Linked DNA regions of Homo sapiens: regions 1, 2 and 3 are each linked to region 4. The links come from fine-mapping of genetic effects on gene expression. A gene starts in region 4. Each other region holds a variant in brackets. All regions are shown on one strand. Distances are from middle to middle.

The links.
Region 1: its variant is fine-mapped to the expression of RERE in whole blood (INTERVAL, PIP 0.96).
Region 2: its variant is fine-mapped to the expression of RERE in whole blood (INTERVAL, PIP above 0.99).
Region 3: its variant is fine-mapped to the expression of RERE in whole blood (TOPMed, PIP above 0.99).

The regions. Positions count from the first base shown.
Region 1 is chr1:8,345,310-8,353,568 of GRCh38, forward strand. It overlaps RERE (arginine-glutamic acid dipeptide repeats), which reads right to left. Exons shown (of 23, transcript NM_001042681.2): 23 at 7,095-8,259. Among named protein-coding and RNA genes, the nearest start is that of SLC45A1, 31 kb to the left of the region's middle. RefSeq lists an enhancer at 4,554-5,374. The variant C/A (reference allele first, on the strand shown) is at 4,303.
Region 2 is chr1:8,433,952-8,442,210 of GRCh38, forward strand. All of the region lies in intron 11 of RERE (arginine-glutamic acid dipeptide repeats), which reads right to left. RERE-AS1 (RERE antisense RNA 1) reads left to right here. Exons shown (of 4, transcript NR_125999.1): 4 at 682-1,065. Among named protein-coding and RNA genes, the nearest start is that of RERE-AS1, 13 kb to the left of the region's middle. The variant T/TG (reference allele first, on the strand shown) is at 4,315.
Region 3 is chr1:8,420,279-8,428,537 of GRCh38, forward strand. It overlaps RERE (arginine-glutamic acid dipeptide repeats), which reads right to left. Exons shown (of 23, transcript NM_001042681.2): 12 at 2,449-2,529. It overlaps RERE-AS1 (RERE antisense RNA 1), which reads left to right and starts at 4,367. Exons shown (of 4, transcript NR_125999.1): 1 at 4,367-4,423; 2 at 8,204-8,259. RefSeq lists silencers at 3,167-3,506, 3,817-3,956 and an enhancer at 7,485-7,724. The variant T/TCC (reference allele first, on the strand shown) is at 3,291.
Region 4 is chr1:8,815,130-8,820,129 of GRCh38, forward strand. It overlaps RERE (arginine-glutamic acid dipeptide repeats), which reads right to left and starts at 2,511. Exons shown (of 23, transcript NM_001042681.2): 1 at 2,031-2,511. RefSeq lists silencers at 2,109-2,168, 2,419-2,718, 2,819-3,048 and an enhancer at 2,461-2,755.

The DNA of each region.
Region 1 (8,259 bases), 470 kb before region 4:
AGACACATGGCTCACTGAGGTTCCGTGCAGCGCAAGCGCAGGGAAGGAGGACAGGGCGACAGCAGCGTGTCTGGGTGGCCTCAGTAGTGAGGTGCCGTTTGAGCAGTGTCCTGATGAAGCCAGGGAGTGATCTCTGAAGTGAGCACTTGCTTGACAGGCTCGAGGGAGCATAGGCACCAAGATGCTCAGATTGTAAAATGCCCCAAAAGTTGAAATCTCAAAGAGTTTGGAGCTGATGTGGCTGGCCAGCGCCCATCCTGCCTTTTGACTCCACAGGCAGGGACTAGGGGCTGGAGGGCGAGGTTCGGGTCATTCTTCCCCCTCCATCCGCCAAGGGTTCATTCCACAGATGGACACCATGTGCCTGCTGCGTGCAGGCGTCGCTGGGCCTGGGTCTGCCCGGGCTGTGCCCACTGCCTCCCAGTGCCCCTTTGTGGATCTGGCAAAGCTCTCGTGAGTGTGGCAGTCCCTCGCCATCTGGCCTCTGACCATCTTCGTCACCTGACGCTGGAAGCTCACCAAGGCCCCTTCTCAGAGGCCTGGGAGGGCTCCTCCACGCATGGTGATTAATGGCCATGAGGGGTCACGGCCGGGTCCCTGTTGTCGCCAAGCTGGGCCTGGTCTGGGATTGTGCAGCCCCCAGTTCCCTCACTGCATGGGCCCTGTGTTCTGGGGACATATAAGACATCCCTGACCACAAATCCACAACAAACAACAGGGGTTCTGGGGCCTGTTGCCAGCCTTGGGGAGTCTGGCGTTCATGACAGTGTCTTATCATCTTGCTGTGACCACTTAGGGCCAGTCAGAAAGGCTACCTCCCCACCTGGGCCACAGCCTCCCTCCCAACCACGGCCTCCCCACCTTGGTTATGATTTTCCCACCTGAGCCCCGGCCTCCCCCATGGGCCATAGCCTTCCTCAGTGTCACTGCCTGCTGCCTCCTGGAGCCCCACCACTCCTCTCTGCGCCCCTGCTGGACTCCTGGCCTCCTGTCTACCCTCACATCCATCTTCCACCCTGAAGCTGGGGGGCTGTAAACACGGGCCTGAGCCCATCCCCTCTTCTAGTCTTCCATGACACCTACCCTGGCTCCCCAGACCCTAAGGAATCAGGTAGAAATTCCTTCCACCAAACAGAGCCCAGCCCATCTTCCCGAGCCAGCCACCCGCCACGTTGCCAGCCCCCTGTACTACAGCCACAGAACCTTTGTGGGCCACAATCGGTTCCTGTGTTTAGGATCTTCCTGCAGGCCAAGTCCACCTCTTCTCTGCCCATCAATATCTGATTCATCCATGTAGACCTGTCTGAAATGCCACTTCCTCCGTGCAGTCCACCCTGCTTGGAGCCAGTGATTCTTTCCCTGTGCTTTCATGTGATGCTGCTTTACCCTTCATGGTCATGAGCTCAGTGAAGCGGGTCTCACGGTCCCTGATACACATGTAGCTGAAGCACAGAGAGGTTTAGTGGCTTTTCAAAGTCACACCGCTCCTTTGAGCCTCTGTAGACTCAGGCCCTGTTAGTCCCATGCTTTTCCTGGAACTGCAGACTTACCCTCCCCACATTTATGTTGTTTGGAAGAGCTTCAGACTTCCTAGAAAATGTGGTGTTGGGTGGCTGTCCTCTGGTCTGGGCTGTCTTTGCCCAGAACTGGTCAAAATGAAGAATAAGGGGCTTCCCGCTTACTCTTGGCTTGTCAAATCTTAGGCCCTCTTCCTAGAACTTTCTAACAAAACACAGATTGCTTCTACACGTGGGAATCGTCCCTGTCAGCCTCTCTTTTCTGAGAACCTGCCCTGCCTCCCGAACTGTGGGAGTACTGCCCTCTGGCCGGGTCCGAAAAGCTGCCCTTGACTTCCAGGTCTATTCCTAGCAGATGGCAGTGGGAGCAGCCACCAGCTCCAAACCACGAGGCCTAGGACTCACTGAGAGCCACATTCGTTTGACTTTCACATCTCAGAGAGGATTTCTCTCTACTTAAAAATCAAGCTGTGGGCCGGGCGCAGTGGCTCACGCCTGTAATCCCAGCACTTTGGGAGGCCGAGGCGGGTGGATCACGAGGCCAGGAGATTGAGACCATCCTGGCTAACACGGTGAAACCCTGTCTCTACTAAAAATACAAAAAATTAGCTGGGCATGGTGGTGGGCGCCTGTAGTCCCAGCTACTTGGGAGGCTGAGGCAGGAGAATCGCTTGAACCTGGGCGGCAGAGGTTGCAGTGGGCTGAGATTGCACCACTGCACTCCAGCCTGGGTGACAGAGCGAGACTCTGTCTCAAAAAAAAAAAAAAAAAAAGAATCAAGCTGTGATGATGAGGGTAGTCACCGCTGCTTGCTGTTTGTGAAGTCCTCACTACACACGAGGCCACGTGTGAATGAATCTTAATCCATTCTCCGACCTTGCTGGGAAAGAGGTATCATTCCCCCATTTGACAGATCTGGATCCTGAGGCAAGCACACCCAGTACCTGGCCCACGTCACAACAGGGTGGAGTTTGAGCCCGGGGAGTCTGAGTCCAGCCTCATGCCGCTGAGTGCCTTAGGAGCGCTGTGAGCCGGCCAAGCCCCTGAGGGCGGGCAGCTTCCTGCCCGTCTGTCTCCTGAACACTGTGCTGCTGCAGGGAGGCCTTCTCGCTCCCCAGGGCTCGCTCCCCAGGGAGCTCAGCTTGGAGGGAGCTTCTCATCCTATTCAGAGGCGAGGGGACAGCGGGAGAAGGCCTCTTGCTTTATCGATCAGCGCTCTGTGAGACTCATGCTTCTCAGGCCACTCAAAACAAAAACCACATCACCAAGATCTGAAGCCACTCCTGACTTTCCTGTCAGCAAACTTGGAAAGTGGCTCCCATTCCTTGATGCCACTCAGAAACGAAACACACCTAACAGCCATCGAGCACTGCCCACAGCACTTAGCATGGAAACTGAACGTCATCAAAGGAATTGCCCTAGAGGTCATCGCCTCCCTGGGTTTTGTGTTTCTTCCTCCCTAGGCTGTTGGGCTAACCCTGGACCATTCCCTGGGGAACCGGGACAGGGTAAGGTGGCATTCCCTGGAGAACCGGGAACCGGGACCCGGTAAGGTGGCATTCCTACACTCACCAGGCTGGGCTACAGGTTTCTGGGGGAACAGGGATGATTTCCCTGGAATATGCAAGAACTGACAATTGCCTGGCCCCCCCGCAGTCGGGAGGTCCTGGCCCTCCCTGCACCTGCTCAGAGTGTGTCTGCAGAATCCACTCGGGTGCGTGGGGCGTGACGTATCATCCTCAGCGGGGAGCGGGTGGAGGGCATCCGTAGAGGGAAGGAGCAGGTGTCTGGAACTGGGGGTGGGTACTTTTGTGGCACACAAGGACCCCCAGCAGCTGCTCAGGGGGCTTGTCGGGGAGTGGGGGCGCGGTTAGTTATGGGAGTCATGATTCTTGGAAGTCATCCGCTGCTGATGCCATCCTGGGATTCTCTTCCACACAAGGAACATTGAGTTCCTACCGGGTACCTCCCAAGCCTTGGGGGATGCAGCGGAGAACAGAAGAAACCTCCTGTTCTCTAGACAAGGCCTTTGCCCTCATTCTCACAGCCGTGCCCGCCCTGCCTGCCCACAGCCATCAGCCTCACCTGCCCACACTCAGCCCCCTCTTCCCAGCCATCTCCACAACCCGCTCTGCTGAGGCCTGTCCAGTTGCCTGATCTCTGACCCGCCTGTCCGGCCGCCTGCCTCGAGGAAACGTCGGATCTCTTACACAATGCTCGCTGTCAAACCCTCCAGCCTTCCCCACCATCGCCGGGGGCCTTGACTTGCCCCTACACCAGAGCTGCAGGTCTTGTGGCAGCCGCGGGCCCAGGGCAAGCACCTGGGCCTTGTAACGACTGCCACCTGGTGGCCAGGATGGGGATGGACTCTGTTCGACGGCTGCCCAGCAGCAGGGTCCAAGGGGATTGGGGGGTGGGGGGGACTGGGTGGTCACATGCCCAGAAAACAGTGGGATAGGCAAGAAATGGCCTCAGGAATCCTCTCTGGGACAACTAAAAGGTGCTCTAAAAGCCTGTTTTTAATTTGCTCCAATGGATACTCAAACCCTAGGGGTTCATCAGAAGCTGATCCCCCAAGCCCCATTCCCCACTTCTACGATGGTGTCAACCAGGGTTGGAGTCAGAGGGACTGCAGGGCCCACACGGCAGGCACAGTCAAGAGAATGTGAAGGGAGGGTCTCCAGGTGCCCAGCAGAGGCGTCCCTGGGAAGCCTTCCGAAGTCAACCCAAAAGGTCCTTCTATCTGGTCCTTCACACCCACTTTCCAATAGCACATCTGGACTGG[C/A]AGCAAGGAACCTTGCCCTGCAGGGCCCGTCCGTCCGTCCATCCGTCCGTCCGTCCATCCATCCATCCATCCATCCATCCATCCAGCAGGGTCCATCCACCCATCCATCCATCCCTCCAATATCTGCAGAGCAAGTGCCTTCCACAAACTTGGTTCATTAAGAAGGGGCCCGGGTGCCTGTGCATACACAGAACTGGGCTGTGGGAGATACAGGGGGACTTCTGCAGCCTGGGTCCCTGAGGTGTCAAAAGGGAACAATGACCACTCTTGACAAAGACAGCCACTAGAGAAGCCACCTTGAGTTGGAGAAGCAGAGAACCAGGTCCCAGAACTTGAGTTGCCAAGGATTCCAGGGCAGCTAGGAACCCAGTGGGGATTCAGGTAAAGGACCTCAGATACCGAGACTGTCAAAGGCCGACAATGCCGCCTCCGAGAGGACCGGGTGAGGCATCTGCAGCTGGAGCTCATCAGGGGCTGAGCAGGAGGCTGTTCCTGGCCCCCTGGGGATCCACGATGGATGCCAGCTCCAGCCAGGCCCCGCCTTCTAACGGGAGGTCCGGGAACCTTATGAACCAGAAAGGGCTTGCTTTATCCTGCAGCCCGTATCAGTCCAACCGGATGGCCAAATGTGCGGCTGCATCCCTTGGCTGGCTCATCTGGCAGATCCTCCTTAGGAGGAGGTAGGGAGGCCAAGGACCCCGCTGTTCCTCGGTCTCCATTGGGCAGCAGGAAGGGCCCCAGGGGTCCAGTGCAGGACAGACTTTTCCACTGGTTTTGGGGCCTGGCAGCTTCATCCCCAGTATCTGGGTAGCTGGTTCTGATTTCAAAGCTCTGAGTTCAGATATGTACCCAAGCCTTCTGGGCTGGTCAGGTGAGGCTGATGGTGGTCACTGAAGTCTGTGCTGGTGCCCAGTCACACTGCCCTGGGTCTCACCATGTGGTCAGGCTGGGGCTAGTGAGGGCTCTTAGCTCAGATGACGGCTCCCCACATCTCAGCTTCCACACAGAAGGGCTCTGGCCCTGACCCCCCCCCCCCCCGCCCCCCGCCACCACTCATCAGCTGATCACATCCACAATTGTATAGCTCACCAGTGCTGATTTTTGAGGGCCTGGAAGCTTGCAATCTCGTGTGTGTGTGGGAGGCCACCGCTGATCTCTCCACGGTGCATCCTTGCCCTTCAGATGCGTGATCTTGACTTACCCAGGTGAGGCTTAAGTGAGGTCTCTCCCTCCCTAGACTTACCATGGACAATTATCAACAATGCAGCCACACACCCAGCTGCACACCTACACTGTGCTGAGGCCCTGGGACTTACACCATGCCCTGCAAAGTGCCATCTTCCTAGCCCACCTGCAGTGGAACCAGCGGGGCTGCTGAGCCACCATGCTCAAGCTGAGGATGCGTTTCCAGGAACAAAGGGGCAGAGGGCACGTGGGACGTCGTTGGGGCAGCAAGAGGCGAGGGCCTGGCTTTGGGGTGCTGCTGGAGGACAGCACCATTTCCCTCCGCCCCGTCCACCCAGCAGATGTCTGGTTAGCATTCCCGGCCCTCTTCCTCACATGGGTGCGTGGCAGAGTGGTGACAATGGCCACAGCTGTTCATGCCTGAGAAGCTGCCCAGCTCTGATGAGGCCTTGTTGTAGCATGAACCTACTATCTCCTCAAGACGCTTGGATCCAACCATTTAACCACACTGAAATCTACACTTCACAGACCTGTACCTGTTAAACCCTGCAGCTTCCTAAGGGGCACAGTCCCGGAGACCCACCAAGACAGCGCCTGGATTCCAGCCTCTCCCAGCCACCCCAGTGCCATCCTCTCACCCAAGACCTGGACTGAGAGCCACCTGGGGCTCCTGTGGCCAGCCTGCGGGCCCATCCCTGTGCCCTGGTCAGCCACGCTGCTGAGCAGGACCCCTGCTGTTCGCCTCAAGGGCCGTCATCGTGTGCGCCACTCGGGTCTTTGCATGGCGAAGCTTTCTCAGGTCCTGAGCGAGGCAGTGCCTGGTGCCTGCTGCTCCCCAAGTCTTTACCACGTGGCGGACCCTGCCTGGTTTGAGGACAGTTTACCAACAGTCAGCTTTCTGGGCTGCTCTTGCCCCATGTCTGCAAACACCTAGAAACTGATGGCCCTATCCCAGATGACAAAGGGTGGACACACATTTCCGGGGACAATCCTGAGGCTCCAGGAAAATGCCCTCAACAGGTTCTGAAGCCACAGCGCAATTCCAACGCCTGCCCCCCTGTGGCCATGTCCACACCCTGCAGGCTGCCTGCAGCCCCTTTGGAGGGTTAGAGCCCCTTAGGCCTGGGATGCATCCTCCACCTGGAGTGCAGCTCTAGAGCTGGGTGGCTGGGGGTGGGGTGTGGGGGCACTGGTAGGCCACGGGGAGGCAGATGGGGGCCAGGCAGGAGGCCGCTAGGATGGGGTGGTTCCGATGTGTCTCCTGAGCAGGCAGGGTGCCACATGCCCATACATGCTGGTAACGCCCACGGATTAGAGGTGTGGGGTGAATGGCAAGGGGTGGGGGAAGATGCTCTTAGTCCCAATGCCAGTGCCTGCTTAGGGCCCATCCCGCTGCTTGGGGAGCCTCCAAAGAAAGACAGCACCCTCACCAGGGAAAGCCTCTTCCCAGACAGAGGATGTTTCTGGAAGCCACTCTGGGATGCAAACAGGGTCCCGAGCAGCAGGGAACAGCCGACTCTCCCTCTGTCCCTTCCCCACCTGGGGTAACAGCCAGGATCCCCGCCCACTCTCCAGGAATGAGACAGTGCACGGGAGACACCCAAGGGTTGTAGTGTAGCTTGGTTTTATTTATGTCCACAAATATTTCAAAAAAATTACAAAATACTCAAATGGAGAGAACACAGAAGTCACGATTTCTGGGTGTCTACTGTTTACACTGTGTTATCTCATGGCAAACTACTCATATATACATTTAGCTTCAAGATATATAGAAACGTAGCAAATCCGAGTGTGCACGCTGCCTCTGCCGCAGTGGAGTGAAGCTCAACCTCGAGGACACCGAACAAGATACGGACACACACAGAGGAGCCAAACCAAACCCCGAACAAAGGGAGGAAAATCCGAAGGAAACCGAGTGGTTGGGCTTCAAAGACACCATGAAGGTCAGGGCCTCCTAAACAAACTGTAGTTTATCTGGTGAGGGTTTCGGGTCGAGGGTTTTTTAGATGGAAGAATCTCAGCGCTTCGCCTTGGGATATGGGGAGAAAAGCAAAGCTAACAAGAATGCCTTCGGACGGCTTTCAAGCACAGACCTCAGAGGACTCGACTCTTCTTTGGAAAAATGGATGCCAAAGGAGGAGATAAAGAAGGTTTAACTGAATGGTAGATGTTGTGTTCTACCAAAAAGAAAGAAAAACCAGAAGCCGAGAAGGTGGGGGCCTGGATGCAGGAGTCTGGGAGCCCAGCAGGAAGAGGCCTCGCTCAGAGCCACGGGAACAAGCCTGCCATGAGGGCCTGTCCCCACCCCAGAAGGAAACGAATGCCTTCAAGCCAATGTGGCCTGAAGTCCCACGACAAAAGGTTCATGTCAGCTTTGCCTCCCTGTGAACAAACTAAAGTTAAGGCAGAAATGGAATGAGAGAAAAATGAAAGAAAAAAAACTAGAAACATTTTCAACAGACAAAACAAGCCTATCCCAACTGAAACCAAACACGGTTTTTAAGAGAAACTGGAAATGTCGCTATTTGACGCCAGAACCTGAATTTGAGCCAGTAGCTGCTGGTTTCTAGATCAAACTATCAGCATCTCTTCCTGCTCCCTCTGCGGCCTGGGTCCTGGATGGACTTTGTGTCCGCCGACCCAGTGTGGTCTCTGTCCTACAATTCTTGGGATGGGACCAGCACAATGGCAGAAGAGACCTCCAGTGTCTGAGAGAAAAGGATCGGAAGAGGCCACGTCCTGGCAGGAAGCAGGGCCGACAGAGGGCAGACA
Region 2 (8,259 bases), 380 kb before region 4:
TTTCCTTTCTTTTCCTCTTTTTCCTAATCTTCCAAAGGCCAAAGAGAATGAGAAGGAGCACTTGGGAAGGTAGATCTAATATAATCCTGCCTGGCTGTTCTACCCTCCTCAGTTCATGAGTATCATGATAATGGACAGCTCCTGGTTTAAATCATTGTTTTATTCCATCACCCCACCACTAGCAACCCCCAGTTAAGATTAGCTATAGAAACATAACACAAAGGGTGACTGAAGCGCCAGGTCTTTCAGTGTGTGAGGCCAGCAAGAGTCCAACAGCCCCTCAATGTCCCAGCTGACTCTTCTGATGATATGCTCAGAAATGTCTACAGAAGCTGAGCAGCTGCCAGCTCAACACACCCTGCCACACCTGCGCTATCGGTGGAATCAGAGAATGAGAAAGCTAGAAAGAAGCTTTAGAGAACTACGCTGGTTGAAACCCTCATATTACTGATGAGGACCATAAATCATTTAACTGAAATTAAACCAACAAATCAAACCACACATACCCACAAAATCTTTACATTTGTGACAAACTATATTTTCTAGAGGTGGCCACTCCAATACAGATTCCATCCCACATGCTCTAACAATGTGATAATGACACTCCTTCATTGACAGGTGGGTCTCTCTGTTCTCTCCTCCTGAGCCTGGGTAGACCTTTGTAACTGTCTTGACCAACAGAATGTGACAGAATGATACCAGGTGACTTCTAAGACTACATCATACAAAGCAACACAGCTTCTGCTGGGCTCTCCCTCTCTGGACACGTGTCTTTGAAGCCCTGAGCTGCCAGATTAAACAGTCCGGCTTGCCTAAAGTCACCACGCTGGAGAGACCATCAGGGATGGAGAGGTGCTACAGAAACCCTAGCTATTCTAGTCCCCAGCCATTTGAGTCTTCCTAGCCCAGACTCATAAGTGAAGAAACCTTCAAGATGATTCCAATACCTCCTATCACTTGACTGCAACCTCGTGAAAGCCTAAGCCAGACCTGCACGGTGGAGCCATTCCTAAATTCTGGTCCCACAGAAACTGTGAAAGATAATAAATGATCATCATTGCTTTACATTGGGCTAATTTTTATTATCAGGGGTAACGTGTTACATAGCGATAGGCAACTAATACAAGATTCATTACTAAAACCACTAAAAACTTTAACCTGTTAGTCACTATTAATTTAAGCAAACAAATAAGCAATCTTCCAATGATGCTTCCCCAATTTGCATGCCTCTCTATAACCTTACTCTGCCTTCATTTTAAGGCCTAGCTCTTATCACCATATGTGATATGATTAGATAACACGATATAGGCTACGTTACTGAATATATGAGGAAAGGGCCTTTGTTTTGTTCACTATTATATCCCCAGCACCTAGAACAGCACTTGACAACATATAGCAGGTGCTTGACAACCACTGGTTCAGTACAAGAATGTATCTGGAGATGATTGGGCTTAGTGTTCCTCCAAGGCTATTTGACCTCTCATCACCTGTTCTCCAGTTTGACTCAACGTCTCTTAATATATATTCACTGCACTGTTAAGTTTCTAACTCTCTAACTACTACTGACAAAACCATTAGATGTTCTTCGTTCAAACCCACTAGAGGAACTACACCATCCCCTCCGTGATGCCAGCTCAGCATCCAGAGTAGAGCCAGTGATTTCCTTTGTCAACACACCTGCATGCCAAAAACCCTTCCCAGGAGGTCTCAAATATCAAATAAAAGTTACTCCATTTTTCATTCAAAGACCATGTGCCCAATGGGAAAATGACCTCATGTTGTGGTTTAAACAGCAACTGCACCCACTAGCACAGCCCATTGAGCTATCCTATATATACATCTCTGTCAGTGCCCCTCTGGGTCTAGATAATTACACTGAGTACACTGAAGTCCTTTCATTATTGCAGGCCCAACAAAAAGTACTGCCACTGGGTGAATATCAGAAAGCATGCATCAATGCACTTTCAAGTCAAATGAGAACTGGCTAGTTAAGCAGCAGCATTAACAGATGTAGAGATTGTGCCAGCCAAATGCCTCTTGCCAATTATGGCCACACAGCTACGCCCAAATTAAAAATAACCCAACACGGCCAGGTGCACTGGCTCATGCCTGTAATCCCAGCACTTTGGGAGGCTGAGGCAGGCAGATCACGAGGTCAGGAGTTTGAGACCAGCCTGGTCAACATGGTGAAACCCCAACTCTACTAAAAATACAAAAATTAGCCAGGCGTGGTGGCGTGTGCCTGTGATCTCAGCTCCTTGGGAGGCTGAGGCAGGAGAATTGCTTGAACCCGGGAGACAGAGGTTGCAATGAGCTGAGATTGTGCCACTGCACTCCAACCTGGGCGACAGAGCGAGACTCAATCTCAAATAAATAAATAAAAAATAAATAAAATAACCCAACACTCATAACAGAATCCAAATGGGCATGGGAGGCTCCTTCTCTCCCTACAATATCACCCTACAGTCGCTACATAAATGCCCCTGTAAAGTGGCTCCTAAGTTATGTCATTAAAATGTTCACCTTTCCTTGGCAAAGTAGATCTCAACACAGGAGGAAAGAGAAATAAGCTAAAAAAAGAAATGTGGATTGTCTAGAAGTTACAAGGGAACAAAAAAGTAGAAATCCTCCGTGAGAGGATTTTGCAAAAACTGTAATTAAAGGAATCTAGACCAGTGGTTGCCCGATAGAAATATAAGCCAAAAATGTAAGTTTTACTCTTCTAGTAACCATACTTTAAAAAGAAACAGGTAAAATTAATTTAAATGTTTTATTTAACTAAAAAGATCAAAAATATTATCATTTCAACATGTAATCAATATAAAAGTTAGTAATGAAATATTTTACATTCTTTTTCTTCCTGCTCAGTCTTTGAAATCAGTGTGTATTTTACACTGACCGTGCATCTACACTTGGGCCAGCACATTGCAGATGCTCAACAGCCACAAGAGACCAGTGGTTACCACATTGGAAAGCACAGGTCTAGAATAATCCTAACTTCTTTTTTTGTAAAATACTGAAACATCCAAAGCACTCCAAGTTTTCTATTAGGGAGGCAAAATAACTATACTGTTAGAATCATGGGCAACGATATCATAAATTCCTAAAATAAAACCACATAGGGCCGTTATTTCAAATTACATAAAACTTGTCTTCTAGAAGAATTCGACCAAATGCCAAAGTTCTTAAGATCTGCCCCACTTCCCAAACAAGGGAAACTGAAGACCTCGACCAGCACCAGGGCCTTCCGTCAGCTCCTGATACAGGAGGGGCTCCTGGATTTTGTTTCCCCTTCTTGACAATACAACATGGGACTGGGTTCCTCATTTGACTCGGTTCATTTAAAGAATGATCTCAAAGAAGAAAGGAAAATCAATGACCCCTTTAGGAAATGTAGTCCAGGGTGGGGGTGGAGGAAGCATTTCAATGACAAAAGCCAAACCTCAGTCATAATGCAGATCCCTGTCTAACAGGTGATCATTGTTTTTTTTTTCTATTACAGGCACTCTGGTCTCCCGCCTACCCCATGCAGGATGGCTATCCCCATGCAGAATGGCTGTGACTTTCAAGAGAGTCCCCCAAGGGAGGGTCCCAAGATCAGGGGCTGGTAATGGGCCCCACCACAAGGCTACGCTGCTGGCTTTTGTTTGGAACAATAGCGCTCCCATGATACCTCACTCTTGCTGACAATATTGGTAATACGGGAGCATGAACACAGCTGTGTGTAAATTACACACACAAACAGATTAGATCTGTATATTTATAAGGAATACAAACATACTAATAGCTCATTTACATACACAGCTGGATACAATGGGCTGCATGCAGAGGGGAGTTTGAGTTCCAAAGTATTTCTCTAAAATTTTACAAAAAGAAATGCTCAGATTACTGCTAACCCAGGCTGAGACTTCTGCTCCCCCCACCCCCATGCAGTATGTCCCCCGAAATAGAGTCCTTTTCATCCTCGTTTGTGATATTTGAGATGCTATGAAGGAGAAACCTCAACAAGTGCTGTTAGATTTCACTTTTATTATTATTTATTATTATTTTTAGAGACAGGGTCTTGCTCTGCCACCTAGGCTACAGTGGTATGATCACAGTTCACTGTAACGTGGAGCTTCCGGGCTCAAATGATCCTCCTGGCTCGGCCTCCCAAGTAGGTCAGACTACAGGTATGTGTCAGTTACCATGCCCAGCTAATTTTAAAAATATTTTTTTGTAGAGACGGGGTTCTCACTATGTTGCCCAGGCTTGGTCTTGAACTCTTGATTTCAAGCAATCCTGCTGCCTCAGCCTCCCAAAGAGTTGGGATTA[T/TG]GGCATGAGCCACTGTGCCCAGCCAGATCTCACTCCTGTAGGAAAAAAATCAATATAGGATAATTTTCAGTTAAAAAGATGTATATACATACGAAGAGGGAGACCTACTAAAACATCTGTTACAACAGCATATAGTAAGGCAGAATCTTTGCATTTTCAAAATGTTTTCATAAACTTTATTTGTTAGAGCAATTTCAGGTTCACAGCAAAACGGAACAGAAGGTATAGGGATTTCCCATATAGATGGGTCTCTGGATTTTTCAGCTAATTTTGAAAAATAGGGAAAAGAGCAATCAGCATTTTGTGCTCACTACAGTAAACCAGGAACACAGGCATCAGGAGAGCTGGGCTCTGATTCAAAGGCCTGATTCTAGCAAGGCCTCACAGTTTACTTCCGGCTAGCCATGAACACTCTCTGCGCCTGAGGTTTTCGTGGAAAGACAGCATCACAAGTACTCAAATGTAGCGTTTAAAAGTACTAACTTTTAAAATGTTGAATGTTCCAGTAAAACAGTTAAAGAAAAAAAAAGGTAATAATCCAACTAAGTAAAAATATTAACTTATACATATCTGGATAGATGATAAGCTCATTACAGGCCCTAATTTTATTATTTAAAATGTTTACAACAAAACTCTCTAATTGATATTCTCCCTCTCTCTCTCTTTTTGCCTTGATATGGTTTCTATAAACTCTTGGTTTAAAAAAGAAAAAAGGTCCATTTCTGAGGCTTGGGTTTACTGTACTTACAGTTCCACCAGTAAATCGTCTCCCAGTCTGGGCTGGAGAAGCGCTGGCCACGGTTTGATTGCTCCAGCCCCAGGTTGCCAGGCAACCCACACAAGGGGGAAGTCTGAGAACCGCTGACAGATAGCCAAGTGGCTGAAACAACAGACTTCTCTCTGTCAAAAATGTGTTTGAGAGAGCCACTTGCCCACCTCTGCTCTCTGCTAAACACTACATGATTGTAAAATCAAAATCAAAAGGCCACTGTAATAAAAACACACTTCCTGCTCAATTACTAATTGTTCTAAAGCTGTGGGGAGGCCCAGATCCTACAGTGTATGGCAACAGAAATGCGATACTGTAAATGAGATAAAGCCAGCAGCATGCAAGAAACCTGATCTAAATGCATCTCCGTAGCTTCAAGTCAGGAGAGCTGGTGTGTGGAGGAATCAACTGCCTAAGAAAACACCAGGAAGAAAATAATGAATGTCAAGATGTTAAAGAAACAAACCAATCAATAACTACGAAGCTAGAGGTCAAGACTACTTAGTAATAAAACCAAGAACATTCTCCATTGTTTTGAAACACAATCTGGAGGCAATGAAAGTTTTCTCCCTCAGATGGAAAGGAGGAGCAAGAAAGGTCAATGACCCTTGGGAACCACACCCCCTGGCGGTTCCAGGTGGATTCCCTGATACTTGACTGTAAATGGGATTACAGGAAATAGTAGCATCCTTAGGATAATGCAGGACAATAACAGGTCTGAGAGTCTAATGCAACATTTAAAATACCTATGGTGTGAGCTGGGCACAGTGGCTCACGCCTGTAATCCCAGCACTTTGGGAGGCCGAGGTGGGTGGATCACCTGAGGTCAAAAGTTTGAGACCAGCCTGGCCAACACAGTGAAACCCCGTCTACACTAAAAATACAAAAAATTAGCTGGGCATGGTGGCAAACGCCTGTAATCCCAGCTACTGGGGAGGCTGAGGCAGGAGAATTGCTTCAACCCGGGAGGCAGAGGTTGCAGTGAGCTGAGATCGCGCCATTACACTCCAGCCTGGGCAACAAGAGTGAAACTCCCTCTCAAACAAACAAAAACAAAATATCTATGGTGCATGTACCAAGCCAGTAACATTGTGCCCAACACCAACTCTATGCAGCATCCTTCCATGAAACCACTGTATTGAAACTGTCATCTTGGACTCTGGAAACTATTTGTAGTATGTGGAAGGGGCCAGCACTGAGTGCACAGTTCTTTATCTCTTCTGTGCCATGGACCCTTTGGCAGTCTGGTAAAGCCTGACTCCTTCTAAAAATGGTTTATGGCCAGGCACGGCTCATGCCTGTAATCCTAGCACTTTGGGAGGCCGAGGCAGGCGGACATGAGGTTAGGAGATCGAGACCATCCTGGCCAATATGGTGAAACCCTGTCTCTACTAAAAATACAAACAATTAGCTGGGCGTGGTGGCGCATGCCTGTAATCCCAGCTACTCAGGAGGCTGAGGCAGGAGAATCACTTGAACCAGGGAGTCAGAGGTCGCAGTAAGCCGAGATCATGCCACTGAACTCCAGCCTGGCGACAGAGCGAGACTCCACCTAAAAAAAAAAAAAAAAAGGCTGGGCACGGTGGCTCCTGTCTGTAATCCCAGCACTTTGGGAGGCCGAGGCTGGCGGATCACCTAACGTCGAGTTTGAGACTAGCCTGGCCAACATGGTGAAACCTCGTCTCTACTAAAAATACAAAAAAAAAAAAAAATTAGCTGGGCATGGTGGTACATGCCTGTAGTCCCACCTACTTGGGGAGGCTGAGGCAGGAGAATCGCTTGAACCCAGGAGGCGGAAGTTGCAGTGAACCAAGACCATGCCACTGCACTCCAGCCTCGGTGACAGAGGGAGACTCCATCTCAAAAAAAAAAAATAGAAAGTATGCCAGAGTAATATAACTGCTCTATGAACACACTAAATAACAAGAGCTAGCAGAGGGTTTTCTTTAGCTCATGCAGGTTTTTTGTTTTTCGGGGGGGTGGGGGGGCTGTTTTGCTTTATTATGTGACCTCAGATGATAAACCCTTGGAGGGCAAGGACAGCAAGTTTTTCATCATTCAATTTCCAGTGCAATATGCAGCCCGGTTTCCTGCCCCAAGCTCCTAAGCTAGCCCTCGTCACACCACTAGCCCAGCTCCTATGGGGGCGTGGGTTTCCTTGACTCTCCCAGTGCCCAGAAGTGGGCCTGGCATATAAGATGTGTAAGACCATAGTCCGCAAAATGGGATGTATGGACACAAAAGACATTTTTTTCCTATGTTCTCTTTCCAACAATCCATCAGCCTGAGAAGGCACACGCTCCTGTGAGGGGATGCAGCCTCTCTTCTTCTATCCCCACCACTGCCCCCCTCTCACTTCACAAAGGCAGCCTCCTCTCCCCCGCTCCCATCTGGAAGGCTACCAGGCAGCACTGCCCCAGGGGCACTGAACAAGGGGACAATTTAAAACATTGACACTGGTGCTGACACAGTGCCTAGCTCTGAGGTCAGGATGAGAAAGACTCCACAAGTCAGACATTTTCTGATTCTCTGCTTTCAACAAAACACAAGGAGGTCCTAGTGGAAGTGTCATCTGATAGATTGCGGAAAGTCATATCTGACGACAAATTATACTTTTGGCATTATTATGGAAAGAATTCAAATAACTGAGTGACACTGTAACAAAACTATCATTCCCATCTACTTACTCACATAAACAAGGTTTCTGGGCACTTACGTGTTTAAAAAAACCATACAATTTATTTCCAATAAATGTTAAGCAAAAATGAAAATTATATCAACATTTACATTATTTCGTTGTTTTCATCAACTGTGCTCTAATAATTATAATTTGAAAAAACATTTCTTCTATACTTAAGAGCTTTATTATTAAAGGAAATAACCATATGCCCGATTTCAATACACACACTTTTTGTTGCAGGGAAGTACTAAAGGTCAATCGGACACTGGACTTTCAAACATAAAATGTATCATCTTAGTATAAAGTCCCTGGGGAAGTAGAATGGAAATAAAAATTAAAGGGGGAAAAGGATAAGATGCAACATTGGACTGCTTTTAAAAAATGAACTTGTCGGGCATGGTGGCTCACACCTGTAATCCCATCACTTTGGGAGGCTTAGGTGGGCAGATTACCTGAGGTCAGGAGTTCAAGACCAGCCTGGCCACCATGGCGAAAT
Region 3 (8,259 bases), 390 kb before region 4:
ATCTTGTCTCATTAAAAAAGAGAGAGAGAGAAAGAGAGAGAGAATGTGAAAAGTATCTATATTAGAGGGATTTGCTATCAAAAGGGGCATGACTATAAGAATTCTACCCAGCAAGTTCTGAATCAACAACACTGGTACATGCAAATCTCATCTTCTGCAGCAAAAAGTAAAAAATGACCTCTGCCCTCCCCTCCCTGTGGGCTGTGAATGATTAGCTTGGCTATGTTGATAACTAGAGAAAATAAGAAAACACAAGATGAGTGCCTCTCCCAGCTCATTATAATACTTACAGATTTACCCTACTACCAAACTCCTCCAGTGCAATGCAAAAGACAGCAAGGACACTATGAATATTTAGCAAATGTCAGGCATAATAAATCCTCCATTGCTGCAAACAACTCTCTCATTAGTTCCAATGATGGTGACTGATGAAGACTTTGGAAATAGGAAAACTGCTGGGTGCTAGAGAAGGGAGAAGAGCTACAGCGTGGGAAACTGTGAAGGCGGAGGAGTGATGGGGAAAGGTCTCAGCAAAGAGGCTAGTGGAAAAGACAACCAGAGAACTAGCTCAAAAGGTTGGTGTACTGAGAATGCCTCTGAAGGAGAAAAAAGGCTATTTATTTACGGAGTCACACATCATCAATAAGAAGGGAAAATCAAGAGCAAAAAGAAAAACATAGTAGAAGAACTTAACTAGGTTAAAGGTTACTCACATCTGCTTCCACTACGGAGATAAAACACTAAGTAAAATTACCGAGCATTTCCAAATGCCAGATGGTAGAATTTAGATTTAATGCTTAATCTTCCAATTATGAATTTATTTTTTAAAACTGAAAGATAAAATAATTGTCAAGATAGTTCTGTATCAAATTCTTCATGGTTTGCAACTTTTAGCAGAGCAGAGACAGAGAACTTGAGAGGCTACAATCTGAGCGATCAGGAGAAATCTACTCACTGATCTCTTTTTTACTCAGCCAAACCAAACTTCCTACACTCGGGCAAAGGCATTTTAATTTTTAATCATATCAAACTTCAAGTCACTGAAATCCCCAGAAAACTTAAAATATGTATCTCAATATTCCATATTAAATAACTCTACCCTGTTCTGGGAAGGGTAAGAAATAAGTTGATTATATAGATTGGCATCATAATACATCTTAGTTTAATGTTCATAAACAGGTTTCTCTCTCTCTGTTTTTTACCATTCTCAATATGATCCATCCTAGCATATGAGATGCGTAATACTTAAATTTAATTGTCATTGACTGATGCAAATCATCCATTTATATATACAAGACTATACTTGAAATCACAAAACCCTTCTTCCCCATGAGTTATCACTGTCCTTGAGGTACTATACAGTAAGTGTCCAGAAAAACAGCTCATTTTTAAAAAGACAGAATTAAACAAGAGGAAATCAGTAAACAACATCCAATTAAAAAATTAAGCCAAAAAACCCAAATTATCCGCATACTTTTATAGTAGATATTCTTGCATCCATCTCCCACCTCCACTCCCTAAAAAAGCAGCTCAATGTCTAGGCAGATTAAACATGGATCACTCCTCCCAAAGTCCTGAAGAGTGTTTCTGGTTAATGAGTCCTCCCTTCGCCTTCAGACAGTGGAGTGGCTGCTCCAACTCCATCCCATCTGCCCTATCCCGTGGCCTAGCCAGAGGGAAGACTCTCTCCCCATCTGCCTCTACACCACCAGGGAAGGAGATGAGGAGGGAGGCAACCACAGGGAAATGAGAATGAATCCCTTCCCCGCATTCTCTTCATATAATTTCACTCTGTATTTTCCTCAGCAAATCCTTCTACCTCACGTTTATCGGGCACATTTGTCAGCTCTGACCCCCAGCTTTGTGAAATACTAAGTAGTTTTTTGTAAAGCTCCATTTAAGCAATTTATAAGATCCCCTTGTACATCTGTCCAGTGGAAAGTGCAAACTCTCAGGGATAGAATATTAAAGAGTTAAAACTCCTCTTCAAAACAGAGCAACATTGAAAAATGGAAAAAATCCCCCAGAACTCAAAGTATAATAAGCCACAAACCTCTGGTTTGGTTGATGATTTCTGCCAATTACCAAATTCAAACTAGTGATAAAATGCTATTTCCTATTCCAGCCACTATGTTTAAAATTTGATGTTAACTCTCCAACAATCCTTCCCCCACAACTAACCCTCTGTTCCCAAAGACCTTTCTGTTCTCAGAGTTACAACAGAAGTCTATGTTCTCCAGGCGGATAAGCATAATCTGTCACTTTACTATCTAAAAATTATGAACTCAAATTAAAAGTCAAGGGAGTAAAACGGAGAGAATTCTGGAGGCCAGCCCGAGTCTGAGCACAGCGCAGGGTTAAAGGAAACCATTTCATAAGATCAAATGTGGAGAGGCAGCAGGAGCAAAGAGGAAAAAATCAAGTTACATAAAGTCCAATTGTACTCACTGTTTCCTTATTGGGAAGCAGCTCCTTTCTAATTCTGAAGAAGTTCTTCCCGTACTGCCTGAGTCCCTTAACGAAGCGTTTCTGTGATAAAAAGAAACAAATGGGATGTAAAAACCAAAAACAAAACAGGATGTCAGCAAAGCAAAGATATCTACAATCAGCAGAATAACAACCACAAAAAAAGTCTCGGCTAGGGAATACTGCCGAGGCTCGGAGAGTATGTCAGCAGCTCAGCTGGGACCCACTGGCCAGGGCAGGCCCCAGCTACCTTCATCAGAACCCCAATCCCACCCACCACGCAGGGCAGCGCGTTTAAGAGAAGGACGTCCTGCGTCTGAGGCTAAGAAGCAATCTGTCCCCCTCTTCCACCAGGCACACATTCTGGTGCACGAAGGTATAAATATGCTCCATGTTTTAATAAAACACAACTGCTTTCCCACCTGAGAACCAAGCTTCCCAGAAGTGTCGAGCAGAAAGGGGAAACAGAACCAAACCCGGTGACTCTTCTCCAGAAGGGAACCCTAGGGGGTTAAAAGGCCGCTTTCCTTAATCCAAAGAATTTGCCAGGAGGCACCGGAAGGCACCAGTATCACAGAAGCCCACCGGGAACACGAAAGCCAGCGGGCCTGCCCCACCGTCCGTCATTAAAAGCCACTCCGAGACACCAGAGAATAACCAGCACCCCTTCCGCCCTCCCGACGCCACTCGCCGCCCCCATCCATTTTCGCAGCAGACTCGTCCCTAACCCCAGCCCGGAGACTTTCACTTTGTCCCATGCCTCCCGAGCACCCCTCCCCGCCCCGGTGGGGGCAGCTCCTGGCTCCGAGCCCCCACCTCGGGGC[T/TCC]CCCAGCCTGGTCCCGGGCGGCCGACCCCAGCAGCCACAGGTAAGCGCCCGGGGTCCGGGGCGGCAAGAGGCCGTCGCCTGTCACTGGGCTCCGGCTCCACAAAGCGCAGGGCGGAGGCGGCCGCGGGTGGCTCGGCGTGTGACCGCGGCGGGGCCGCGCGGCGCGGGGCCCGGGGGGCGCGGGGCTGGGGCCGCCGCTGACGGGGGAGGAGGCAGGAGCGCGGCGCGCAGAGCCCGGCGCGGCCGCGGGCGGCTGCAAAAGGCGGCCTGGATTGCCGCCGCCCTCCTGTCCGCCAGCCGGGGCCCCGCGCCCCGGCCCCGGCCCCGCCCCCGGCCCGACCCCCACCCCGAGGCCGGAGCCTCCAGGGCACCCGGCGCTGGAATCTGTGTCCTCCTTCCGGACAGGAGAACATCAAGGCGGTAAAGCACAGAAACTTCCTCCCTACCGCAGCAAGCGTGGGGAGAGGGCGCCCACAGGGCTGGGGCCCTTCCCAGGCTGCTGGGTCTCCAGCCCACGTTCCGGATGGACGAAGTCGGCTGCGCCCCGGCCGCACGCCCTCCGCCCCAACCCCGCCTCAGCTGCGAAACGGGGGGCTGGCCCCGACGCCCCCCGCGGTCCCTTCCGGCCCGCGATTGTGGGCGGCCTCTCCCTGGCGGCCCAGGCATTAGCCTGCACTTCCCCGGCCGCCGCTTCACAACTAAATCACCGCGGAAGCTTCCCAGCCAATAAATCACCTGCCCACCGGGCAGAGGGTCCCTCCCACTCCCTGTGTTTGAGACCCGCCAGGCGGATTCAGTGAAGGGCCAGACTTAGCCTTTTAAGACCAGTCTGCAACCTCCTACTCCAGTAGTGGAGGCTTTGCGTTTTTGAATTTCACCCTTGCTGAGATATGACTCATCATTGTCAATTTTCAATATAATTCATACAGTTCGAAGGGAAAATCTCTCAAGGCACAAGAAAGCAGCAAGCTCTCCTCTAGTGTGAGGAGTGACCTTTGTTACTTGACAAAAGTATCGTTTATATGATCAACAGGCATCCTACGCTGTGTGCACACAGCATATCACCGGGAGAGACGGCACGGAAAGATGGCCCTGCCCTCAAGGAGCTGCAGTCTGCCCAGGAAGGCAGACAGGTAAACAAACCAGTCCTAGGGCCTGCAAGAAAAGCAGCAGAGGAACAAAGGGTGGTGGGTGAAGCTAGGAAGAGGAAGCAACTTACTCTGCTTGCTGATGTCTTAGAGGAAGTGACAAGGAAGAGTGTGAGCCTGCCAGGTGGGCTCCAGCAGGGCTTCCAGCAGAAGTCAGCCAGGAAAAGGCACAGGGAACATTCTGGGAACTGCAAGGAGGACAGGGTGTGCAGAATGGAGTGCCAGCAGATAAGACGAAAGAGGCAGGCAAGGATCCGGTTGCAGAGAGCCCTTCAGGCCGCACGGAAGAGTTCCTAATTGTAGGCTGGCAGAAAGGCTGAAGCTGGAGCTTTCCATGAAAAGACTGGATGAGGACTGTGCCAGTGGCAGTGTGGCCTAAGTGTAGATTAGGGACAGACCAGTTAAAGAGGCTGCTGACACAGTTCAGGTATGAGATGAGGACCTCAACTACTGGCACACTCCACCTCAGTAATCAGAATTCCTGCCGCTTAATCCATTCTTCAAGTATTCAGGTATTTACTGAGCACCTAGCTGAGAGGGGTCTAGGAAGATAATAAAGGTTGCCATGGACCTTTACTGAACTGTGATTCATTTTTGCACGTAAGATAAGTATGTGTGAAGTCATTACAGAACATTCTGAGATGTCATCTGGCCAAGCATAAAGAAGTGAGGTGCAGCTCATCAGTGCAGCAAGGGACCCAAGAAGGCTAGACTGCAGTGGTCTGTAGTAGTTCAGAATGCCTTCGCCAAGGCAGTGACATCAGCGAGATCACAAGGGGTGGGCAACTATTGCAGGGGTGGGAGGTGGCTTGGTGACCGGGCCCTCCGTGAAGGTCAGAGGTGGAGAATGGGAGGTGGGTTACAGGGGACAGTCTACACAGACTTGGGGCGGGCAATCTGGAGTGAGCCAGGCTGTGGAACGCCAGGACCATGCAATCGGAACGTGGGCTTGATACCAAGTGACATCTAACAGGTCCAGTAAAAGAGGCCTACACAATAAAGGCAGCATGTGAGAAAGGCTGACTCTGGAACATCAGGGTAAGGTGGCAGAGTTGGACAAACAAATTCAGATCCTGTTTCTTCCATTTATTGTGATGCAATCCTTTGAACATCATCCATTCAACCAATAGTTACTAAGTACCTACTATATGCCAGGAGCCTCATATATATTAATTCGAAATCTTTACAACCTAAGAAGAAGTACAATTATTATCCCCATTTTACAGACAAGGAAGCTGAGGCACAGATAGGTAACTAGATCAACTCCTCAGAGACAAAGCCAGAATTCAAACTTAAGCCCCCTCAAATCCTCAGAGCCACACTCTGTAAAATGCAGGCAGGCGTCTACAGTGGTAACTATTTTCTGTTACCATTTTCTATGAGTCTGTACTTTCCTCTTCTCGGGTCCAATGTCAAATCATAAAGTCCTCAGTATTCTTCCTAAGAAGTGTCTTTCAGCCGGGCGCGGTGGCTCATGCCTGTAATCCTAGCACTTTGGGAGGCTGAGGCGGGCAGACCACAAGGCCAGGAGATCGAGACCATCCTGGCTAACACAGTGAAACCCCGTCTCTACTAAAAATACAAAAAATTAGCTGGGCATGGTGGTGGGCGCCTGTAGTCCCAGCTACTGGGGAGGCTGAGGCAGGAGAATGGCGTCAACCCGGGAGGCGCAGCTTGCAGTGAGCCGAAATTGCGCCACTGCACTCCAGCCTGGGCGACAGAGACTCTGTCTCAAAAAAAAAAAAAAAAAAAGTGTCTTTCAACGCCCTCCTTTCCTGCTCATGCTAGTGGCAGTCCCAGGCCAGACCTTTATCTCTCTTTCCTAATAACTAGGCTATTAACCATCTCCCCCATCCAGCCATTTAAAAGCCTCTGCCAAGGAATTTTTCCCAACTATAGATTTCATCCTGAGTCCCACTTTATCTGGCCCTTAGCCCCTACCTAAGAACAGCATGGTGGTCTCTGCAGGACAGTGTTTACACTCCTTAGCCCTGAATTCAAGGCCCTCCAGGATCCTGGCCCTGCCCACCTTTCCAGCCAGATGTCCAGTAATGCCAACTGGCCCACACTGGGGGACCTCTGTCTCAACTCCAGAATCTGGGTAAGGCATCTCCACGTTCACCTCAAAATCTCTCCTACTCCCAAATGAAACCAGATGTCCAGTTACTCTCTCATTAGTTTATTTATTTGTATAAGGCCTGCTTACCCAAAAAGTCCATAAACTCTTAAAATAATTACATCTTACACCTAGTGCCTCCATATAACACTAGGCAGTTGATGCTCACCACATTTTTTGTCTCCTTTAAAAATTATTTATTTATTAACGATGAGGTCTCACTATATTGCCCAGGCTGGTCTCAAACTCCTGGCCTCAAGCAATCCTCCCGCTTTGACCTCCCAAAGTGTTGAGATTACAGGTGTGAGTCACCGCACCCGGACAAGTGAAACCAACCATGAGATGCTGAGGGCCTGGGCTAGGGTGGTCACAGTGGAAATGGACTGTTGAAAGCCAGAAGGTCCATTTTGAACTCTCCTAACAGAGCTGACCTCTTGCTCCATGATGCCAAACTCTCCTAGTTTTGCTCATACCACTTGGCCTAATTCTCTACTCAACCTCTAAATGCTGGAGTCTCCCCAAAGCTTTGTCCTAGGGCTTTCTGCTATATATATCCTCTCCCCATATGATCTCCACTGTTCCCTTGGCTCTAAATATCTTTCGAGATTGTCACTGGTATTTCTAAGACTAAATCTATGGTCCAAGTCCACTGGGAACACTCAACTTGAACGTTTCACAGGTATCTCAAACTAATTACTTCCAGAAATAGGAATTTGACATCTGGTGGTGAACACAGACCTACCACAGCTGTCAATGTATGTCAATATAATGCTATCAAGAGCAAAAGCACCCTTGGCCCCACTTTAAAAAAAAAAAAAAAAAAAAAAGGAAGTAAAAGCTTCATGTGGCCTGTACTGTTACTTCTCTATGGAAAGCCACAAGGCCTCAAAACCAGCAAAACATCTGCTTCTCAGAGACCAGCCTTTAGCTTGTGGTTTACCAGAAATGTAGAGTAGCCCTGAAAATCGAAACAAAGACGACCACTCACAGTAGTCAATGATTGGAAGGGGTCACACGTGAAAGAGACTTCTGTTGCGGCTGTCTCCTTTCCCTCTATAAATTCATCGCTCTTCAAATGAAGACCCCGAAGTTTTTAAGACTTTAACAATTAACACTATTGACTTATAAATCAACAGGCCCTATAAGCCTCTAAATGCAAGTTCATGGAGACAGTCTGTTTCTTAAGAGTCTTCTAGTTGTTGAGCTGAAATTCGGCATTTCCAGTGCTGAAATTCAAGGTCTCATGAATTATTTCTGTGTCCATTAGTTTTTCTATCACTCCCAGTGTATAGATATTAGAATAGCAGGATGCCAAGGGTAAAGGAGGAAGGAAATATAGAAGGCAAGTCACTGACTTGGCCACTGCTGCCAGCGCTGGGCAGCTCTGCTGTTTATGCTCCCCAGCTCATAGCCTGCCCACTCTCAGACGCACGAACTGAGCGTCTTGAGATGTTGGCACTTGTTTCTCTGGTGTGTTCATGCCCAACCAACCCAACTAGGTGCTGCTCCTTGGAAACATAAAACAAGTCCTTTTCTGTTTGTGTACCCCCATAGCCAGGTGAGATCCAAATATAAATAAATATTTATGGCAAGGAGATTGTTGCTTTGTGTTACAACTTACGTTTATGATTTTGTGCTCTAATTTTTAGATAAACTGCTATAGTTTTCCACTATTGAGCTGAATTTCGTATCACCATCAAAAGTT
Region 4 (5,000 bases):
GCCACAGCTGGGTTTATCCCAGGTGGACTAGCCTATTCCCTGTCCAGTATTCAAAGGAGCCCCCTAAACAGAAAACCAGATCTTTTCTTATAACCCTTATTTACAAAAACAACATTGACAGCTCAATTGCCAGCAAACCTGACCATCAAACCATCACACCACTAAAAACATGCAAACATCATCTTGCTAAATATTAACCTCAATACAACCTTTATAATATTAATCAATAAAATCTATTTCTATCTAGAAAGACTCTGCTCACATTCACTACTAAGACTCAAGTGAACAAATCACTGTCCCCAACAAAATCAGGGTCAATGAGAAATACAAAAGCAATGAGAGCTGAACGTAAGGCCACAACATATAAAGAGGGATTTTATCTTTACATATACAAAAAAGAAAGAGCAGCAGAAACCACGGCTGCAAAAGGAATAAAGGGAGGCAGAGAGAAGAGAAGTCTCTGAACATGTTTTTGAGTGTCCTTTAGTTTCCAATGCACTCTTCTGCCTCACAAGGTTGCAAAAACGGCCAGGCATGAGATGGGTGGAAGAAAGCTGTAACAGAAAAGCACCCTCCCTTCCCCCATCTTCTCTCTTCTCTCCCAAAAAGAGCTGTGTTTGTCTGTGCAAACCTAGTCCCAAATATGGGAGAGAGAGAATGAATGTGTGTATGGAAGAACAATGAGCCCTCAGCTTGGTATTGTGTGTGTGTGTATGTGTGTGTGTGTGTGTGTATATGTGTGTCTGTCTGCCTCTGCCTCTTTTCCCTTCGACCTCAACAACAACAGGGAGAGCTGGAAGCCAGCTTTCCACCCATCCCAGGCCATCAAAATCAAAACTGGTTGATAATTTACAGTAGTATTAACTCAGCAAGCAAATCCATGGAACAAAATATCAACCCAAAGATGATTTTATTATTGTACAGATCCAGCTTCTCTCCCCTCCCCCAACAGACTGAGACTAAAAAGACCAGTGTACACTAGACAAAAAGGTCTCTCTTTAAATGGAAAGCAATTATGAAAACTGTTTCAAATCTTAGATGCATCAATTCCTGCTATATTAAAATGTCTATTTTGTAATTCACCAAGTTCACCCTCTTACTAGTTATCTTTTTTTGCGTTTAAAAATTCGCTGTGAAGAAGGCTATTTCACGATTCATACAAAACTACTTTCTAAATGTACCTTAAAAAAGCAACAGATACTGAAACATTTAAAGCACCCAGTTTCTCAAGGACCCATTTTACTTAAATCAATGTTTGAAGTCTGTAATCCAGAAAAATTGTAAGCAAACCTTGGAAAAGAGACAGAGGAAAATGACAATTCAACAATGAATCATTCTGTTTTCCTTTCAACAACTTCTCAAGCAACCAGTTTCAAAGGAAGCCTGCAACACTTTTCCCCCCTCCTAGCAGACACACATACACACGTGTATGTAAAACTACGAATCTTTCCATCATCTTAAAAATTAGTAATAAATAGAAGCCACCCTCCTTCAGAGAGCAGAACTAAAACAGGATAGTAAGAATTCTATTCTGCTGCAAGTGACTTTGGGTTTCATAATTTTCTAATCACATACAGCTGAGAACTAGAGATTGGGAGCACAAAGAGGAAATCTTCCCCCAATGAGAAAATGATACTTTAATAATAAAGTCCTCCCCCCAGCACCCCGAAATCCACAAACATTCAAGAAATTTACAGTTTCAGTCCTTGACTTCCTTCCCTTCCAGTTTCAGCCAATAATGTAGTCACATGAAATAGTTTAACCTCAAACAAGTAGAACAAGAGCATGAATAAGAGGCCAAGAGAGAGCAGGGGTCAGAAGGCACGCAGGAACGGTCACCTGGCCCGGACAGGACCAAAGAAGTGCCCTGCCCTCGCCCGACTCCCCTCGACTTCGGCTTCGACCCCAGCCTTTTCTTCCTGCCTCCCCCCGGGCGAGTGACTGCTTTCACGGCCGACCCTCTCTGACCACCAGGACGAGGGGCCAAAAAAGAAAGCACACGACCCGGCGCGGGCAAGTTGGACACTTACCTTCCCCTAAAGCGCTACACCATCAATAGTGAGGTGTTCGCGGCCCAGCTCCGGGGAAAGTGGCGGGGATGGGGCGGGAGGCCGCGCGGAGGCTGCGGGGCCGCGGGGCGCAGGGCCGAGAGGGGCGGCCCGCGGGGAGGCGACGCGGAGGGGCTGAGGGGGCTTCCCTGCCGTGACCTTTCCTGCGACTTGAACCTAGGCTCCCTCCTCCTCGGTCGGGCAGATCTTTCAGAAGCAGGAGCCCAGGATCATGTCTGGTTTTGTTTTCCGAGGGCGAGGGGGCTCCCTGAGGATGATGGTGATTTTTTTTTTTTTTTAATCCTCAACTAGGAGAGAAAATGAGGCAGAGACAATGTGGGGAGCGAGAGAGGGGAAAAGGACGGGGGAGGAGGCGGGGACCGAGGCCCAGCGGGGCGAGCGTCTCGGGGTGTGCGGGAGGCTGAGGAGGCTCCGGAGCGCGGAGGGTTGCTCGCGAGCGTCTGTGGGAACAGCGGCACCTCCGCGATGGTGGCGGAGCCGCGGCGGAGCTGCTGCACCGACCCGCCGCCCACTCCCCGCTCGGGCCCGGCCCACCTCGCAGTATCGCGCCCCTCCATTGGTACAGCGCGGTGTGACGCGGCCGGGGGCCCGGCCAATGGGAGGCGGAGGAGGCGGGATCTCTTTTTCCTTTTTTTTTTTTTTTTTTTTTTTTTTTTAATCTTTTTAATAAAATGAGCAGAGAAGAAGGCGGAGAGAGGCCGAGCCTTGACAACGCCGCGGCCCGGGGCTCGAGGGCTCGCGCTGCAGGCGGCGGCCAGAGGCGGTGGGCTGGGCTCCCGCCGCGGGCGCGTCTTTGTGAGAGTGCGAGGCCGGCCCTCCTCCGCCGCCCGCCGCGCTCCAGTACCGCCCCCCGCGCCCCCCGGGCTGGGCCGGGCTGGCGGCGCGGGCAGGTCCCGGGTGGGGTGGGGGGAAGTCCGGTTGATCTTGCTGTTACCCGGGTCTTAATTGGCCTTTTCAGTCATTAGGACGCGGATCCATGTTGCTGCGGGCTACAGAGTGGGTGTAAACCATTCTCATATGGACTCTTTCGAAATTCTGATGAGCGGCTTGTAATATTTTTCAAATAGTGTACATGACAAAAGATGAATTACAGAAAGAAAAATAAAAGTGATAAGTCGCACTGCTTATTTGAAAAGAATAAAAAGTGTCATGAAGGCATAAAGGAGAGACTGTACAGGTACAGAAGGGATTTTAGAAAGAGCAGTGTACAACTCTATAAGGTACGTGTGAAAAAAAATCTAAAAAGAGGAAAAGACCAAACATCACCTCTTTTTCTTTGAAGAATGAAGTATTGTGTCCCACTTCCCGAAAGCCTGATAATCACAGGGTCTATCATGCTGTAAAGGGAGTAGGGGCAGGCCAAATGATCATATTCTAGTTCATATAATTTATGGGATTGAGGGGTTTGGAAATTTCAATTATGATTAGCAGTTTTTGAAATGCACATCATGTTTATTGAGTTCTTTCACAGAGCCTGGCACGAATCCAGGGTGAATCATCAACCTATTGTTGGTTTGTTAATATTCTGTAAATGCTTATTGGTGTCCTTATACCATACACTCTTCCCGAAGGAGTTAAGGTCCGTATAAAATAAGGGGTAGAAAACGTAGCACAAAATAATTCACTCATCTGTTTCAAAAGAAGTGATAATTTTCTCCTTGGAAAATCTATTCAGATTATAATTTCCACATTGAATTATTCATTTTTTTTTTTTTTCTGAGAGGGAGTTTCACTCTTGTTGCCCAGGCTGGAGTGCAATGGCGCGATCTCGGCTCACCGCCACCTCCGCCTCCTCAGTTCAAGCGATTCTCCTGCCTCAGCTTCCCGAGTAGCTGAGATTACAGGCATGCGCCACCACACCCAGCTAATTTTGTATTTTTAGTAGAGATGGGGTTTCTCCATGTTGGTCAGGCTGGTCTCGAACTCCTGACCTCAGGTGATCCGCCCGCCTCAGCCTCCCAAAGTGCTGGAATTACAGGCGTGAGCCACCGCACCCGGCCCACATTCAATTATTCTTTAAAGAATAATTTGGACTAACAGATACTATTGGACCATGACCCAAGAGATCTTAAAAAAAAAAAAAAAAGCCATAGATCCTTGCCATCACATTTCTGAGTAACTTTCAGCAAGAAAAATCCTCTTTGCTGGAGTTATGAAATGGGGAAACTAGTTAATATCTCTTTATATATCTGATAATGTGAGAACTGAATTTTAAAACCTAATAAATTCAATAAACTGCTTCCAACATTCTAGATATGGATAGGACTATCTGACTTCCTGTTTGGAAATGATGAGGGATAAAGTATATCAGTTAGATGGCTTCACTTTCCATCAAAATCTCTATCTACAGGAGCATTCTTTCTTTTTTTTCTTTTTTTTTTTTTTGAGACAGAGTCTCGCTCTGTTGCCCAGGCTGGAGTGCAGTGGCACGATCTCAGCTCACTGCAACCTCCACCTCCTCGGTTGAAGCGATTCTCCTGCCTCAGCCTCCTGAGTAGCTGAAATTACAGGTGTGTGCCGCCACACCCAACTAACTTTTGTAATTTTAGTAGAGATGGAGGTTCACTATGTTGCCCAGGCTGGTCTCGAAACTTACAGGAGCATTATTTCTAATAAAGATTCAGCTCTGTGGTAGACAAATGGACAATGCACTGCCATCCAGCAGGGAGGAGAGAGGCTCTCCACGTTAGGAAATAACATTTACTATGGTATTAGGGATTGGCCGTCACTTTCATTTATCCATAAAAATGTAAATTTAGAAGTCCAGAAATGCCACATAGTTACAAAGCATAATATATGGTATCAGACCACAAAATTAGCAAACTAAACCCATTTAACTGTAACAGTCCCACGAAAGAATTGTGGTCCAGCCATAAAGCCGGAGAGTACTGGACCTCCTTCCAAGGATCTGAGAAGCTGATAATGCAGTAA